2 separate regions of the Homo sapiens genome follow, and region 2 is linked to region 1. The links come from fine-mapping of genetic effects on gene expression. Tissue or cell type: lung. Region 1 holds a variant in brackets; the other region holds the start of a gene. All regions are shown on one strand. Distances are between the middles of the regions.

Region 1 (8,840 bases):
TACTCACAATTTCCAGACACGAAAGGCTGTGTAACAGTGGACTTTATACCCTGAGAGTGAAAGTAAAATGTTCACTCTGAGGGCTGGAGCTGGAATCTTTCCTTCATCTATCTCTGTTAGGTGGTGAAAAGCAAGCCAATTTTGGTTGTGCTTATTGACATTGTATCATCTTATGTCATTTCTCAAGTGAAAGTTCTGCATTTTTGTATGAGTAAGAGGTCCCTCGATGGAGCTTTGCCAACTGTTTCTCTCAAGATGTTCTGCAGAGCATCAGATATTGACCTAAAATACAATAAATGGGCATCTCTCTCTGTTAACAGGACCATTGCCAACTATTTGGTGTGGAGAATGGTTTATTCCAGAATTCCAAACCTTAGCAGGCGCTTTCAGTATAGATGGCTGGAATTCTCAAGGGTAAGTTTAAGAAGATTGCAGTGTTACATCGCTGGATAACTTTACATGCTGGAATAGTCCATATATTAACTGATCCAGTAAAAATCATCTTTAGGGATTAGACAGGGGGAGTTTGTAGCCCAAGCTCTATTGTTTTTGTGTGTGTGTGTGTGCCTTATTTATTTTTATTTAGGTATAAATTACATATGGTAAGGTACACTCAAGTTTTACTTTGATGGGTTATATAAAGATATTTAGAGAAATACTTGAGGCCACACATTGTTTTCAAACTTCCCCGTCTTATTAGTGTATTCCCATTTTCCCCCAGAGTTTTTAACTGGGTCACTGTAATTATAGTTTTAACATTTCTTTGTGATATATTTGTAACTATCTTTTATTCTCAGTATTCTGAATATTTAAAATGTGCATGATAGAGATATTGGATGGTAGAACTTCATTTTCAATTTGGAAATGGAATTTTGTCTTAAACTTTGCCTATACCTTCCATCTTTGAATCTATCCTCTGCTAGGTCCAAGAGGCTCCAATTTAGTTTTCTTGCTCAACTGTCTGAGATGGTTTTCCTCCACCTGCTCACCTGGCTCTTTATTTATTTATTTTTATTAGAGATGGGGTCTTGCCATGTTGCCCAGGCTTGTCTTGAACTCCAGAGCTCAAGTGATCCTCTCACCTCAGCTTCCCAAAGTGCTGGGATTAAAGGCACGAGCCACTGTGCCGGGCCTCACCTGGCTCTTTAACCTTTGCTTCTCTCCCACCCTTGCTCGTCTCCCAGTTTGTACCCATGTTACTCTCACCTTTGTTTTTGAGGCTTATGTCTGACTAATTCTCCTACCACTAGAGGCCGTAAGGATTTTGTATCTTTGAAACAGTTTTTATTTTTCTATCAATTTAAAGTTAAGTGAATGGTGAATCTTATAAGCTATGATTTCATTCAAGAGGCATTTTAGTTATTAGAGGAACTAATAAGTATAGAAATTCTTAGTGGGCCATTACTCTGGAAGAGTAGTGCAATTATTTTGGATATGCTTTGACCCTATAAAGTCACTAGCATATAAAGTTACTTTAGGGCTGGGTGCAGTGGCTCACACCTGTAATCCCAGCACTTTGGGAGGCCAAGGCAGGCAAATTGAGGTCAGGAGTTTGAGACCAGCCTGGCCAACGTGGTGAAACCTCGTCTCTACAAAAAATACAAAAATTAGCCGGGCATGGTGTCACGCACCTGTGGTCCCAGCTACTCGGGGGGCTGAGGCAGGAGAATTGCTTGAATCCGGGAGGCGGAGGCTACAGTGAACTGAGATGATGGCACCAATGCACTCCAGCCTGGGCAACAGAGCAAGACTCCGTCTCAAAAAAAAGAAAAAAAGTCTTTTTTACAGAGAACAGCATAAAACAACTATATATATATTTAGGTCATATTGATGGGTTAAGATACAAAACAAGTAGGTTTTGTGTGTGTGTGTGTGTGTGTGTGTGTGTGTGTGTGTGTGTGTGTGTGTTTGTGTGTATTTTTAACTGCTACGAATCACATAAAAGATGATGCCCAGCTGCTTTCCACCCCTACTGTGAAGAGAATGAGAGAGGTGTAAGAAGCACTGTGTGAACATTTAAGGTTAGGTATGAGGGGATGTTTCTTGAGCACGAAGTGCTAAATATAATATTGAATTGCCGAAGAAGGTTGTAGGATCTCTTTCTCTAGAGGTTTTAAAAATAGATTCATCGCTTACCTCTGAGAGAGGTTACCAGAAATCAGAGGAAGAATAGATGAAATTAAGCCTTAATCCCATTCCTCAAAACAACCTGGGTCTAACATTGTGCAAAGGACACTTCTGACCACCATTCTCAGGGCCTCCCTTCCTCCCTGCCTGCACCCCCAGCTTCCAAGGGCAACTTACACTATATTTATTTCTCTGCTTTTATTCCCAAGAGTAAACCTCTGACCCAGGTCCTGCTTGGGAAACTTCTTACTTGTTTGTAAATGTTTTCTTGCAATGGTATAATTGGGACAGATGGGCAAAGCATTTACATCTGTATTTTGCTTGTTTATCAGTGTGTTTTTTGCTGTGACACAATGTAAATATGCTCCCTGTGTTGTTCATGGTGGGCCATGTTCTTCTGGTCTGCCTTGTTGAGTGTGCTACTCGGAGCAAGGAAACCCTCACTGGGCAGGAACTTTGATCACCCACTGATTCTAGACCTTCTTAGTGGAACTTTAGTTCTCAGGAGATATTAAATATTATCTAGACACTTGGATAGCATCCTCTCATGTCCCTGCTGACTGCAGAAAAGTGATACCATTGTCCAGATTCTTTGTTTAATGGGGAAAATTGGGAAGAAAGGATACATATATTATTTTAACTGTTAAATCACTTTCTTTTCTTCTTCTTCTTTTTTTTTTTTTTTTTTTTTTTCCAGACAGAGTCTCACTCTATTGCCCAGGCTGGAGTGCAGTGGCCCAATCTCAGCTCACTGCAACCACCGCTTCCTGGGTTCACACAATTCTCCCACCTCAGCCTCCCAAGTAGCTGGGATTACAGGCATGCACCACCGTGCCCGGCTAATTTTTGTGTTTTTAGTAAGCACGGGGTTTCACCATGTTGGCCAGGCTGGTCTCGAGCTCCTGACCTCAGGTGATCTGCTCACCTGGGCTTCTTAAAGTGCTGGGATTACAGATGTGAGCCACTTTGACCGGCCTAAAACATTTTCATTTAGTTTGAAATATAATGGGGACAAGCAGAATTTTTTTCTTCAACTATTTTACCTTTGCCTCTACTATCTGATGCATATATATGGGTTAGGGTGTGCAGTGTTTTGTAGACTGTTTTCTTCAGGTTGTTTGAATTGTTTTCAGCCATGGGTTTTATCCAAATGAAGTTTAATCTGGATCAATTATCTCCCACAGGTAATCCAGGGGACCACAACTTTGCTGCCTCAATGGGACAAATGTGTAAACTTTATTGAAAGTGCCCTCCCTTATGTTGTTGGAAAGATGTTTGTAGATGTGTACTTCCAGGAAGATAAGAAGGAAATGGTAAGTGGTACTCCCCAGCTAGCAAAAAATAATGGCAATTTAGCCAGATCTGACAAGGGTATATTCAACAGGCTAATGTCAGCCTTCCAGGTGGTAGTGGCCTGTGGGTATTGTCTTCAGATTCTTTCAACTTCTAAGTGAAATAGGAAGAAAGGTCATCAAACGAGAGTGAGGATGAGTTAGCAGGTATTGAAGGTTAGAGGAGAGAGAAGGTGTGTAGTTTTCCAGGGGAGTGGGAGAGTGAATAAACTGAGGGAATGTAGTATAGCTGCTTGA[G/A]GGCAGGCATGTCCAGATGTAGGTGAGGTTTGAGGTATTGAATTTAAAGAGGGACTCATCACTGTGGCAACGTGTTCTTCTCCATCTGTTTCAACTGCATTGGAGAAAAGGGTGTATTTTTTTTTCTTTCAGCTTTATTGAGATGCATTTGACTAATAACAATTGTATATATTCGAAGTATACGGCCGGGCGCAGTGGCTCACACCTGTAATCCTAGTACTTTGAGAGGCTAAGCCGGGCAGATCACTTGAGGTCAGGAGTTTGAGGCCAGCCTGGCCAACATGGTAAAACCCCATCTCTACTAAAAAAAATACAAAATTTATCTGGGCGTGGTGGCAGGCACCTGTAATCCCAGCTATTTGGGAGGCTGAGGCAGGAGAATTGCTTGAACCCCGGAGGCGGAGGTTGCAGTGAGCCGAGATCGCGCCACTGCCCTTCAGCCAAGGCGACAGAGCGAGACTCTGTCTCAAAACAAACACAAAGTATACAAGATGATGATTTGACATACATTGTGAAATGGTTGCCACAATCAAATGAACACATCTGTTGTCACACTTATTTACCATTGTGTGTGTGGTGGTGGGGGATGAGGACACTTAAGATTTACTGTCTTAGCAAATTCAAGTATACAATACATTATTAGTAACTATAGTCACCATGCCATATTTTAGATCCCCATAACTTATTCATCTTAGAACTAGAAGTTTGTACCCTTTGATCAATATCTCCCCATTTCCCTGCCCCCAGCCCCTGGCAACTACTGTTCTACTCTCTGCTTCTATATTTTAACTTTTATAAAGATTCTACATATAAGTGAGATCATATAATATTTGTCTTTCTGTGCCTGGCTTATTTCACTTAGCATAATGTCCTCTGGCTTTATCTATGCTGTTGCAAAAGGCAGGATTTTCTTCATTTCTTCATTTTTATGGCCAAATATTCCATTGTGTGGTACACACATGCACACATCGCAGTTTCCTTATGTATTTATCCATTGAAGGGTATTTAGGTTTATTCCATATCTTGGCTATTATGAATAATGCTGCAATGAACATGAAGGTGCAGATCTTTCTTCCATATACTGATTTTACTTACTTTGGATATATACCCAGTAGTGGGATGGCTGGATTGAATGGTAGTCCTATTTTTATTTTTTTGAAGATTTTCCATGCTATTTTCCATAATGGCTGTACCAGTTTACATTCTTACCAACAGTATATGAGCGTTTCCTTTTTTTCCAGGAATATTTTGCCAACACTTACCTCTTAAATTTTTGATCATAGCCATCCTAACAGGTAGTGAAGTGCTATTTCATTATGGTTTGATTTGCATTTCCCTGATGATTAGTGATGAAAACCTTTTCATAAACCTCCTGTTTATGTGTCGTCTTTGGAAAAATGTCTATTCAGATCTTTTGCCTATTTTTTAATCAGATTATTCGTTTTTTCACTATTGAGAGGGTGTATTTTGAATTAGAAACATGGATTTGGCCAAGTTTTTTGTCTGCATTTTATTTTTGATGAATTATATTTTACAAATGTCATGAAGTAAAAGATCCAGGCATGATTAATAATAATCCGTGTAGTCAATAAGATACAAATATATGAGCAGCTTGGATGCAGGTGGTCAATAAACACTGAATTAAAGGGCAAAGACATTGTAATGTCATGATTGTTCAAATGATTGGTATCACGTAGTGATACATAATAATACCAAATGGTTGGTATTATGTATCAGTACATAGTCATTATTGATACATAATACATGATTATGTATTATGCACTGAAGTTTGCTTTGCAATACCATATCTAAGTACATTTGTGGCAGGCCAGGTCTCACTAACACAGGCCTCCATCACAACTGTCCCAGCACGTACTGAGTAGCTAGGTTAAACATTAAAAGCTGATTGAACCACTGCCCATATACAAAGCCTGGAATGTAACAAAGAGCCCACCAAGAGTTTTGCCTAGGCTTTTCCTGGATCTTGAAGCATGACAAGATAATGAATGAATTCTTAACAGGACCCTTTTAGGATTAAACAAGTTTTATTGGGGGTCTGAAGAAACTCCACAGGCCTCCACAAACAAGTTTACTGGGGTCTAAAGGAACTCCCCAAACCTTTATGATTTAGCAGGAGACAAGATAAGGGTAATTACCTCAGTACCTAGACCCATTTAGATTAAGTAAACTTACTGAGGCTCCAGAAGAAGGTCTTCAAGACTCACACCTAGTTATAGATTAAAAGAAGTTAATCATTTATGTCTTTCGACGATTGCACACTTTCACGTAGACATATAGCTTAGAAGGTATATGAGCTCTAGAAAACTTTGTAACTTTGAGTTGGTCTGGTGATAATTTCCAGGCTTTCTCCCTGTAACCAGTGGCAGAAAATAAAACTCTGTTCTTCCCCAGTTCATTTGCATCTCGTTATTGGGCCGTGAGAAATAGCAGCCTGACCCTCAGTTTGGTCTGGGAACAAATTGACCTATGTTAACTTGTTTTTACTGTCTAACTATGAGACTTTATGTTTGAACCTGAAAGTTCCCTTGCAAATAATTCCACTGAGGAATTAATGGCTTATTTCAAAATACTCAGTATTCTCATTGCGTGTTTTCTTTTGCTCTTTGGTCAGAGTAAATAGATTGAGATCTTATCAGATAATCACAGTAGTAATATTATAATCTCTGGGAAGGCTATAAAAACAATTAAAGGATAATGAAAGATTTAAAAAAATTATAGCAGGTTTTTTGGCAGTAGAAGAATTTTAACTAATATGAAAAGTATGTGGATTAAACTTGTTTTTCTCAGTTTTGGTGTGAAAGTCCCTTTTCCTTGTGTCAGGGTATGACATTCTAAAATAAAGTTAATTTTGGCATCTTCCCCCTTATTTTGATGTACGTGGGGGTAGTTTGGTAGTTAGGCAGATACTCATCTCTTTAACGTAAAATTGTTTGCCTCCCTTGTGCTGAAGCTGTTTGCCTCAGGGAATACTTAGGTTGGAAACTTATAAGAGAAATATCTGGCCTTTTATAGCCTTTTTTTTTACAGGGCTCCCATCCAAGAACCACCTGGAACCACTGATTTACTTGAAAAACATTCAGTATTATTAGCTACAGTCTAAAGAAAAAGAAAAACAGAAAGATCCCCAAAGGGGCAAATTCCAGAGACCCTAACTCAGATGGAAGGCTGCCATTGTTTATTTACCAAAAAAGTTTGTTAAGCAAATGAATACAGTCAGAAGCTTAAACTTCAGGTATGTCTCAAATTTACATGTGTACATAAATCACGTGAGCATCTGCTTGTTAAAAATGCAGATTCTCATTGCATTTTAACAAGGTTTTTTTTTTTTAAGTTGTGTTTGGGGTAGGACCCAAGAATTTGCCTAACAAGGTTCCAGGTGCGACTGCTGCTGCTGGTCGTGGACCACACTTTGCGCAGCAAGGTCTTCTCATGATTCATTTGTTTGTAAACAGCACCAAAAAAAAAAAAAAAAAAAAAAAAAAGCCTCGGTGACTCACAAGAGCAGGCCAGGCCAGTTGACATGAATAGCAGTACTTTATTTACCAAAACCGGTTACATTAGTGCAAGTAACTGCTTTAATTTTCAGATCATTGAAAATTTCTGTGATTCAGATTGGTTTAAATGGACTGTGAAAAACCCTGCGTTAGGACCTCCAGGCTTTATCTTTTGAAAACTGATACCTAGGTTTTACTAAGAGACTCCCGCCCCACTTCTCCTCCGTGTCTGTTTTGAGAACCTCTTGATGACAGAGTTGGCCCAACTGCCTGTGGTTGGTACCCTCTCTTCTAAAGAGTGAGTGGGAGAGAGCAGTTCACATTGAGGTTTCCTACCTATCAGTGTTCTCCTCCTTTTCACTGGGGAAAACACATAATTCTATATTACTGTTTCACTAAGACTTCCTACATCCAACTGTGCATTTGGACACACCGATACACCAACGTTCTCATACTCATTCACACACACAACCATGGGAATTTAGCAAATTGAATTAGAAATGAGAAGAATAGCATGTAGAAAAGGAGAGTCCTTCAACAGAAAGCCACCAAAAGAGGTCATATAGTACAATCCCTTGCCTCCCAGTTAGCAGGACAGAGCCTTAACTCGTGAGATTGGCTGCAAGTGTTGCTTTGTCTTTGCAGTCCAAAGTAGCACTACCCAATTGAACTGGAATATGAGCCACATATTTTTTTTGAGACAGGGTCTCACTCTGTTGCCCAGGCTGGAGTGCAGTGGCGTGATCTCGGCTCACTGCCACCTCCGCCTCCCTGTGTTGGGATTACAGGCATGAGCCACTACCCCTGGCCTCCATTGACTTTTATATTAACATTTTCTCCCTCCTTACCTCCCTTTCTTCCCCCATTCCCCAGAACTAAAAATCATAACTTTGTCTATCAGAGGACTTCTTTAATTTTTTATCTTATTTAGATGAAGATTATTTATAATTTTAAAACATTCCATTAGCTAAGCATTTAATATTACTTTTGTGGAAAGTTACATGAAAGTGGGACTCCCCTAGAGAATTGATGATATATCATCACTGTAAATAGAGATGATGCTCTCGTTCCACTGTGCCAAGCCCTGATCCATATGCTCATGACCTAAATGGCAGGAGAGAGGATTAGTTGTGTTCAGGAAGGATGTCTAGAGTTATCACTTGCTAATTTTCCCCTTTATTTATTTTTATTTTTTAATACTCTTGTCTTTTTCTTTTTCTTTTTTTTTTTTTTGAGACAGAGTCTTGCTCCATCACCCAGGCTGAAGTGCACTGGCATGATCTTGGCTCATTGCAACCTCTGCCTCCTGGGTTCAAGCCATTCTTGTGCCTCAGCCTCATGAGTAGCTGGGATTACAGGTGTGCACCACCAGGCCCAGCTAATTTTTGTATTTTTTTTGGGTAGAGATGTGGTTTCCTCATGTTGGCCAAGCTGGTCTTGAACTCCTGACTTTAAGTGATCTCCCTGCCTCAGCCTCCCAAGGTGCTGGGATTATAGACGTGAGCCACCACGCCTGGCCTTGTTTGATTATTATTATTATTGCTTATATCTGTAATGTATAAGTAAGTGCCCCAGGTAGATACTCATGTCCATGGAGGGCAGGTGAAGG
Region 2 (8,000 bases), 83 kb before region 1:
GGTCGAGGCATGTGGATCGCTTGAGCCCAGGAGTTCGAGACCAGCTTGGGGAACATGGCAAAAATCCATCTTTACTAAAAATACAAGAATTAGCTGGGCGTGGTGGCGCACCACCTGTAGTCCCAGCTATTCGAGAGGATGAGGCAGGAGAATCGCTTGAACCTGGGAGGTGGAGGTTGCAGTGAGCCGAGATTGCGCCACTGCACTCCAGCCTGGGCAACAGAGCGAGACCCTGTCTCAAAACAAAACAAAAAGGTGAAAAACAAAAAAAGCTTTATTTACAAAAACAGGCAGTGGGCCAAATTTGGCCCATGTACTCTTGTGTACAGACCCCTGCTTTAGTCCTGTGAGCACCTATTATTTCCCTGTGCTTTGAACTTCTTTATTTTGCCCTAAAGGGTTTTTTTTCTTTTCTTTTTTTTTTCCGTGTTACTTTAAGTGTGGTTTATTTTGAGGGCAAGATAATCATCATCTCCTAAAAGGCTGAAAAATTAATGCAGAAAATGGCACAGAATGAACAATGTACCTTGTAATGAATGATTCTCCCACATCCTTTCCTCTGTCAGTCCCGCCACTCTCAAGTTTTCCTTTATTCCTCTGGTGAATAAAAGAAACCTTCATTACATTACATTACACAAATTATGCTTATTTTCAATATTTTGACAGTTCTATATTACTCTTACAGACTTGTTTTCATTGTTCAAGTAATACATTTTAAAATTACTTTTTTTAATTTTTAATTTTTGTGGGTACATATTAGGTGTATATATTTGTGGGTACATGAGTTGTTTCGATACAGGCATGCAATGTGAAATAATCACATCGTGGTGAATGTGGTATCCATCCCCTCAAGCATTTATCCTTAGTGTTACAAACAATCCAATGGCAGTCTTTCAGTTATTTTTAAATTTACAATTAAGTTAAATGAATACATTTTTCTATCTGTGTTTGCATATCTTAGTTTGGGATAGAATGCATCATAATTTTCCTATTACAATTAATGAAAGTATTTTTTTTGGTTTAATGGCTTTTCACTCAGCAGTTGACCGTTCAGGAATGAATTCCTGTCGGTAAGTGATGGGTAGGTATAACTTCAGGGAATCCCCAAATTGCCCTCACCTCTGGGGGAATTGCAAGTTCAAGGCAGGTGAAGGCTACTCCAGCTAGGAACTCACGGCCACTATTCAATGTCAGTGGGGACACTGAAAGTTGTGAGGAGATTGAGAGGAGGAAGGAAAGAGGAAAGAAGTGAGTCCTGGTGTCGTGCTTGGGTGACTGTCCTCTCGCTGTGCACAGGAAGCTTTGTCAAGCAGCAGACATGCCATGTATGGCAATGATCCCATCCCCCATCTATCCATTTGTGATTTTCCCATGCCACCTGAGGCCATTCCTTGGTCTCAGTGTCCTTATTTGTGAAACAGAGTTAAAATACCTTTGCTATCAAGTATGTAGATTTACCATGAGGTTAAAGCGAATGTGCTATGCCTATATGAAGTATCACTTTTAGTTGAGCATTGAGAAGGAATAATTAGGGCCTTGAAAGATGACACCCTTCCTCCCCCCGCAGACATTAGCATGTGAGGTTCCTGAAGCTGAAGCTGGTTGTTTGTTGTTTGTTGTTGTTGTTGTCGTTGTTGTTGTTTTGAGATGGGGTCTCGCTCTGTTGCCCAGGCTGGAGTGCAGTACTGCGATCTCAGCTCACTGCAACCTCCGCCTCCCGGGTTCCAGTGATTCTCCGATTCTCCTGCCTCAGCCTCCCGAGTAGCTGGCATTACAGGCATCCACCACCACCTCCGGCTAATTTTTGTACTTTCAGTAGAGTCGGGGTTTCGCCATGTTGGCCAGGCTGATCTCGAACTCCTGACCTCAGGTGATCCACCCACCTTGGCCTTTTGGTTTTTTTGAGACACAGTTTCATTCTGTCACCCAGGCTGGAGTGCAGTGGCTCAATCTCAGCTCACTGCAGCCTCCACTTCCCAGGTCCAAGCGATTTTTGTGCCTCAGCTTCCCCGAGTAGCTGGGATTACAGTCACGTGCCACCACACCTGGCTAATTTTTGTATTTTTAGTAGAGACAGGGTTTCGCCACATTGGCCAGGCAGATCTCGAACTCCTGACTTAGAGTGATCTGCCCACCTCAGCCTCCCAAAGTGTTGGGATTACAGGTGTGAGCCACCACTTCTGGCCCCGAAGTTGGTTTTTTGTTTTGTTTTGTTTTGTATTTGTTTTTTTCCAGACAGTCTTGCTCTGCCGCCCAGACTAGAGTTCAGTGGCATGATCTCAGCTCGCTGCAACCCGCCTCCTGAGTTCAAGCAACTCTCCTGCCTCAGTCTCCTGAGTAGCTGGGATTACAGGCGCCTGCTACCACGCCCGGCTATTTTTTGTATTTTTAGTAGAGACAGGGTTTCACCATGTTGGCCAGGCTGGTCTCGAACTCCTGACCTCGTGATCCACCCGCCTTGGCCTCCCAAAGTACTGGGATTACAGGCGTGAGCCACTGCGCCCAGCTGAAGCTGGTTGTTAAGAGTAAGTGGCTAGGGCTAACTTGTATGATTTTTATTGCTCTCCTTTTCACTGTGAAGGGCCAGGAAATGTCGATGTTGGAGCTGCAACATTGAACATGGTTCCTGACTTTGTGGAACTCATGGTCTAAGATGTGTTCTAGAGTGAGGTCCAAAAACTCTTGGGAGAATCCCATACTAGGGGCCAAAGTCCTGCTAGGGTGTGTTATGGAATAACAGCAACAAAATAATGTCAACAGCCAATGAGCACAGGATAACTACAACACACCATGATGTCATAACTTGGACAAAGGCTTGTGACCCCCTGACTTTGGCGCAACATGAAATGAGCAGAAAGTAAGGTATATTATGGAATAAGCCCCAAAACTTGAGAGAATCCCATGCTAAGGGCTTAAGCCCTGACCAAGACAAGCCAGACAGGACCATGAATGTGTGGCCATGTTATACTGAGCTCATCAGCACCTGCTGAGCTCCTGTGTCACCTCTAAAGCCATGCGCACAAGTTTTGCATTGAGATAATTGCTCTACTGGTTTCTAGATATAGTTGAATTCTCCACCCCCACTCCCACTGCCCTATGACCTCCAGCAAAACAAAAGCAGGTAGGTAGTAATTGTGTTGTGAGTTAACGATATCTATATCTTTGGATAATAAAATCTATATCATTTCAGTGGTAGCATTGGAATATCAGTTGCCCTTCCCCATGAAGAAAGCACATTGTTATCGTTTAAATCATTATCATAATCAAAAATATCAAAGACCCAGTCATTCATCAGTCTTTCCAGTGAAGTCAACTGCCTTTGTTTTTTGTTTGTTTATTTTTGAGACAGGGTCTCTCTCTCTGTCACCCAGGTTAGAGTGCAGTGGCGCGATCTGGCTCACTGCAACCTCCACCTCCCAGGCTCAAGCGATTCTCCCACCTCTGCCTCCTGAGTAGCTGGGAATACAGGTGCTCACCAACATGCCCGGCTAATTTTTGTGTTTTTAGTACAAACAAGGTTTCGCCTTGTTGGCCAGGCTGGTCTCGAACTCCTGGCCTCAAGCGAGCCCCCTGCCTCAGCCTCCCAAAGTGCTGGGATTACAGGCGTGGGCCACTACGCCCGGCCTGAAACCAATTGCCTTTGAATTCATCCTGGGGAATCTGCTGAAGTGGACAGTTTATGTAAACACAAAAACATCCTAATGAATGGCTGCCTCAGTAGGAGTGGCAGACAAAACACATGGTGCACTTTTCATCAAAAACACACAAGGAAAAAATTTTTCATCATATCTTTTGTAGTTGCTAATAAACTTAATTCACGCACTTGTGTTTTTTTGTGGGTTTTTTTTTTTGTACACTTCTTAGTACCACAAAGAGGAAGTGCTTTTTCTCCTTCCTTTAAGAAAAAGTTCCAGTTCAAACCATCAGCCTCTGTAGGTTGTCTTAATTGCTACTTTGCACTGCACTGGACTATGACTGATTTTTGGCACATGCTATCATACACAAAGTTCCTGAAATAAAATGCTCCAGGATATCCTAGGAACTCTTAGAAGGCTTTAAAAAGGGACTCACACACTGAAAGAATATCTTTGATGAAGACAATTCAGGCAAGCAGAATGATTCTTGCAACAGAATTACATGATTAATTGAGATCTTGAAGTGGGTCCGGTGAATCCTGGCCACCTAACTTATCATGATTTGGGGGAGTTTCACGAGAATCCAGTTTTGATAAAACAATTGTTTTTTTCCTCCCCAAGTGACTATACATTTAAATAGCTAAAACATCTGTTCAGCAACATAGTAAAACATATATACTCGGAACGCTTGAGAGAAGAGCCTGCCAAACAGGGACTTTGCTGAGGGAGAGCACCAAGATAAAGCAACACTGTTTGTTTTGTCTAGTCAGGGGGAAAGCCAAGGCAACCAATATTTTGGTTTTTATAATTTTCATTTGTGAAGAATTATTTGAGAAAGGGTGGCGAGGGGAGATTTCCTGACGGCAGTTTCTTAAGCTGTCCATTAGTAGAAGAGCAAGAAAGCCTTGGATGTCAACGCCTCGCTCTTGAGACCAGCCACCAAACCACGAAAAGTGACTTTCTTCTCGTGTGCTCTCTACGGCCCTTCTGATGGAAGCAGAAACAGGGAGCAGCGTGGAGACTGGAAAGAAGGCCAACAGAGGCACTCGAATTGCCCTGGTCGTGTTTGTCGGTGGCACCCTAGTTCTGGGCACGATCCTCTTTCTAGGTAAGTGGAGTGCAGGAGGCCGGGGGAACTGGGTGTGTGTCGAGAAGTTTCCTTGTGCTTTATTGTAGCAAAACTTGTCATAACACAGGTATAGGGCTGTTTGCCTGCGTTCATAGGTGGTGTATCTTTAGTTTCTATCAAATATGCAAATGATAAAGAAGGCTTTTTTAAGGAGCCTAAATAAATAAATACACCCAAGTACCAAATGTATAGTCCAGAAGGCAAAGTGGGTGTAAGTGGCTTCGAGTGGCTGGCTGATTCTGTTGCATTGGGTGGAAAATTTTTTATGTGGTACATTTAGCAAAATGAGTGTTTGTGAATTCATAGTCACATAGTTTCATTTATATTTTGAGGAAAGACTTTACATTGTGATGAAAACCATGCTGGAGTGTCTTTCCATTTGACTTTTATTAATGTTTGCTTGAACGAATCATGAAATTTAATTCACAAAACACAAATCAGTCCTTTAAAGTGTGCTTTTAATGATATTCTTCAATTCCTTTCTTATCCAGTGACTCTGGTGAGATGCAATTTGATTTACAAATTAATATGAAGGAAAACAGAGGTTTTCCCCCAAGATTTGAAAGATATTGTGATTCAGTTATTTTAATGACTGTTGGTGAGAATGATGTACCCAGAGAGTATATAGGATGATAGAAGTGTATTCCCATGAAAAAGAATCAAATATCTTGGAAAGGAGTGAGGGATTTTCTAAAATTCTAGGCTTTCTGAACCCTTGACTATTACCGTTTTAATTTTTCTCATACAACCCATAATACTTCATTAACTTGAACGTTACATAGGAACGAGGAGATTCTAGGTGCAGTTTGAAATGTAGCAAACCTGCAGGAGGCCATGTTTATTTTGGCAGGGGTAAACCAGTAATTAAACTTTAAAAGAGTTAGGGTTGTGTGGTTGAAAACTGCTAAAATGAGCAAACCATCTTTCCACGCTTTCTGTGGCTGAAGATTTAGGAAATTAGATGGGTTTATTGCTTTCTGATAAAGCGAAATCTCCTACTCCTGCAACTGAATCTGTGGCTCTTGAAAACTCTTGTAAGATTTCTCAGCACTTAGGGTTTAAACAAGGGTCCTCTGCTGAAATTCCAAACAAGAGGAAAAATTCTATGGGCATGCCAAAAGACTACAGGCTACGTGCAACGTGACTGCAAGGTTAGGTTTTGCAAATGCTCCCAAACTTAAAAATCCCAATAATTATTGTTTATGTAAAAATATGTACTCTTTTTAACGATATTACCACTGCACGAAACTTTTACAAAACTCTACTTTTATGATTACCTCCTGAGGCCGTGGCATATCGGTTGAAAGATTCTCCGCGGCAGCAAATCTTTGTTCTTTCAGAGAAAATTATTCTCAGGAAATAGTGCCGATGTTTTTAGAGCAAAGTAAAATTCATCAAGCCAGACGCTACTATTATGGATAAGGAGGCCTGCATAAAATATGAAAGAGAACTTTCCAGCGTGCCCAATAACCTGGCTCTCACCTTGACTCTCTAAGAGGAGCTCAAATGATGTTAGAGAATAAGGGCAAACTGAGGCTGTGGCCTCTACAACTTTGCTTCTCAAAATGGGGTCTGTGGACCAGCAGCATTAGCATCACTGGGGAGCTTGAGCTCCACCCCAGACCCGCTGATTCACAATCTGCATTTTCACAAGACCCCCAGGGGACTGTTTGCAAATGCAGGTTTGAGAAGCATTGCTTCAGGTGACCATATCTATTTGGATGTATACATTCAGGGACACTTCTTTTTGTCAAATATTTCTGCACTATTTTAGAATCACCCCCTTACCCCCTCTCCCCGTCCCTCTCCTCAACTCTGCCACCCACCTCCACTCTGCACCCAGGCAAAGTGCTTGTCTGAAAAGCTCCAGGGACCTGCCTGGCAATGCTCTTCATGACAATATTCTAGTTAGGGTCGTCGTCTCTTCAAGGGGCTTCCTGCTTGACTTTGTGGTATATTTCTCTGCCTGTCCACATTCACTTACATGCCTGCAATTTCTAGCATCCCTTCGTACCTCATCTTTGTATCTGAGGCTCTGGGATAATCTCTCCTCGCAACCTTAGTGCTTCTACAGTAAGAGTGATTGCCAGTGGTCTTGCAGTGGCTTCTGAGAAGCTACAGAGCACCAGAATGGAAAACCTTTCTTCTTCTCCTTCCCCTCTCTTTCCTCCCCACAATCTGTTTCTCAGATGCACTGGCTGGCAAACTTTTTCTGCCAAGAGCCAGATAGATAGTGAATATATTTGGCTCTGTGGGCCATACGGCCTCTTGCAACTACTCAATTCTGCTGTTGTTGCACAAAAGCATCCATAGACAATATGTACACAAATGGGCATGGCTGTGTGCCAAGAAAATCTGATTTCTAGACACTGAAATTGGAATGTTATATACTTTTCATATGTCATGAAATATTATTTTCCTTTTTATTTTTCCTGACCATGAAAAAAATGTAAAAGCCATTCATAGCTCATGGGCTGTACAGAAACAGGCAATGGATTTGACCTACAGGCCATAGTTTGCTGACCCCTGCTTTCTGGCCATTCTTATGCTCTTGATCTGTGGATGACTCCACTGCATCCTAAGGGCATTTCCTCTGGTTATAGAGAAATCTACAATGAGAAACCAAACTGCTATTTACATGTATTTTTTAAAGCTCCTAACCATTCAAAAGTAACATCTTAATTTTTATATTAAAAATATTTTCTTTATTGTCTCTATTTCATTCACTTACACCTTCACATTATCTGGGCTTATTGATCCTCATTTATTTGGAGAATTTTAAAATAACCCCATCCATGGAGATAATGCTCTTCCTTGAGGGGTTGGGTCTGTCAGTGTCCCAATTAATTAATTATACACACACACACACACACACACACACACACACGTACATATATATATATATATATATTTTTTTTTTTTTTTTTTTTTTTGAGACGGAGTCTCACTCTGTCACCCAGGCTGGAGTGCAGTGGTGCGATCTTGGCTCGCTACAACCTCCGCCTCCTGGGTTCAAGCAATTATCCTGCCTCAGCCTCCTGAGTAGCTGGGATTACAGGCGTGCACCACCACGCCCAGCTAAGATTTGTATTTTTAGTAGAGATGGGGTTTCACCATGTTGGCCAGGCTGGTCTCGAACTCCTGACCTCAGGTGATCCGCCCACCTCGGCCACCCAAAGTGCTGGGATTGCAGGCCTGAGCCACCGTGCCTGGCCTAATTAGTTATATTTAAAACC

The links. PIP is the estimated chance that this variant, and not a neighbour inherited with it, causes the effect.
Region 2: it holds the start of PHEX, and the variant in region 1 is fine-mapped to the expression of PHEX in lung (GTEx, PIP 0.93).

Annotation. Positions count from the first base shown.
Region 1 is chrX:22,111,147-22,119,986 of GRCh38, forward strand. It overlaps PHEX (phosphate regulating endopeptidase X-linked), which reads left to right. Exons shown (of 22, transcript NM_000444.6): 10 at 321-414; 11 at 3,312-3,440. Among named protein-coding and RNA genes, the nearest start is that of PHEX-AS1, 57 kb to the right of the region's middle. The variant G/A (reference allele first, on the strand shown) is at 3,717.
Region 2 is chrX:22,028,381-22,036,380 of GRCh38, forward strand. It overlaps PHEX (phosphate regulating endopeptidase X-linked), which reads left to right and starts at 3,945. Exons shown (of 22, transcript NM_000444.6): 1 at 3,945-4,743. The coding sequence starts at 4,626.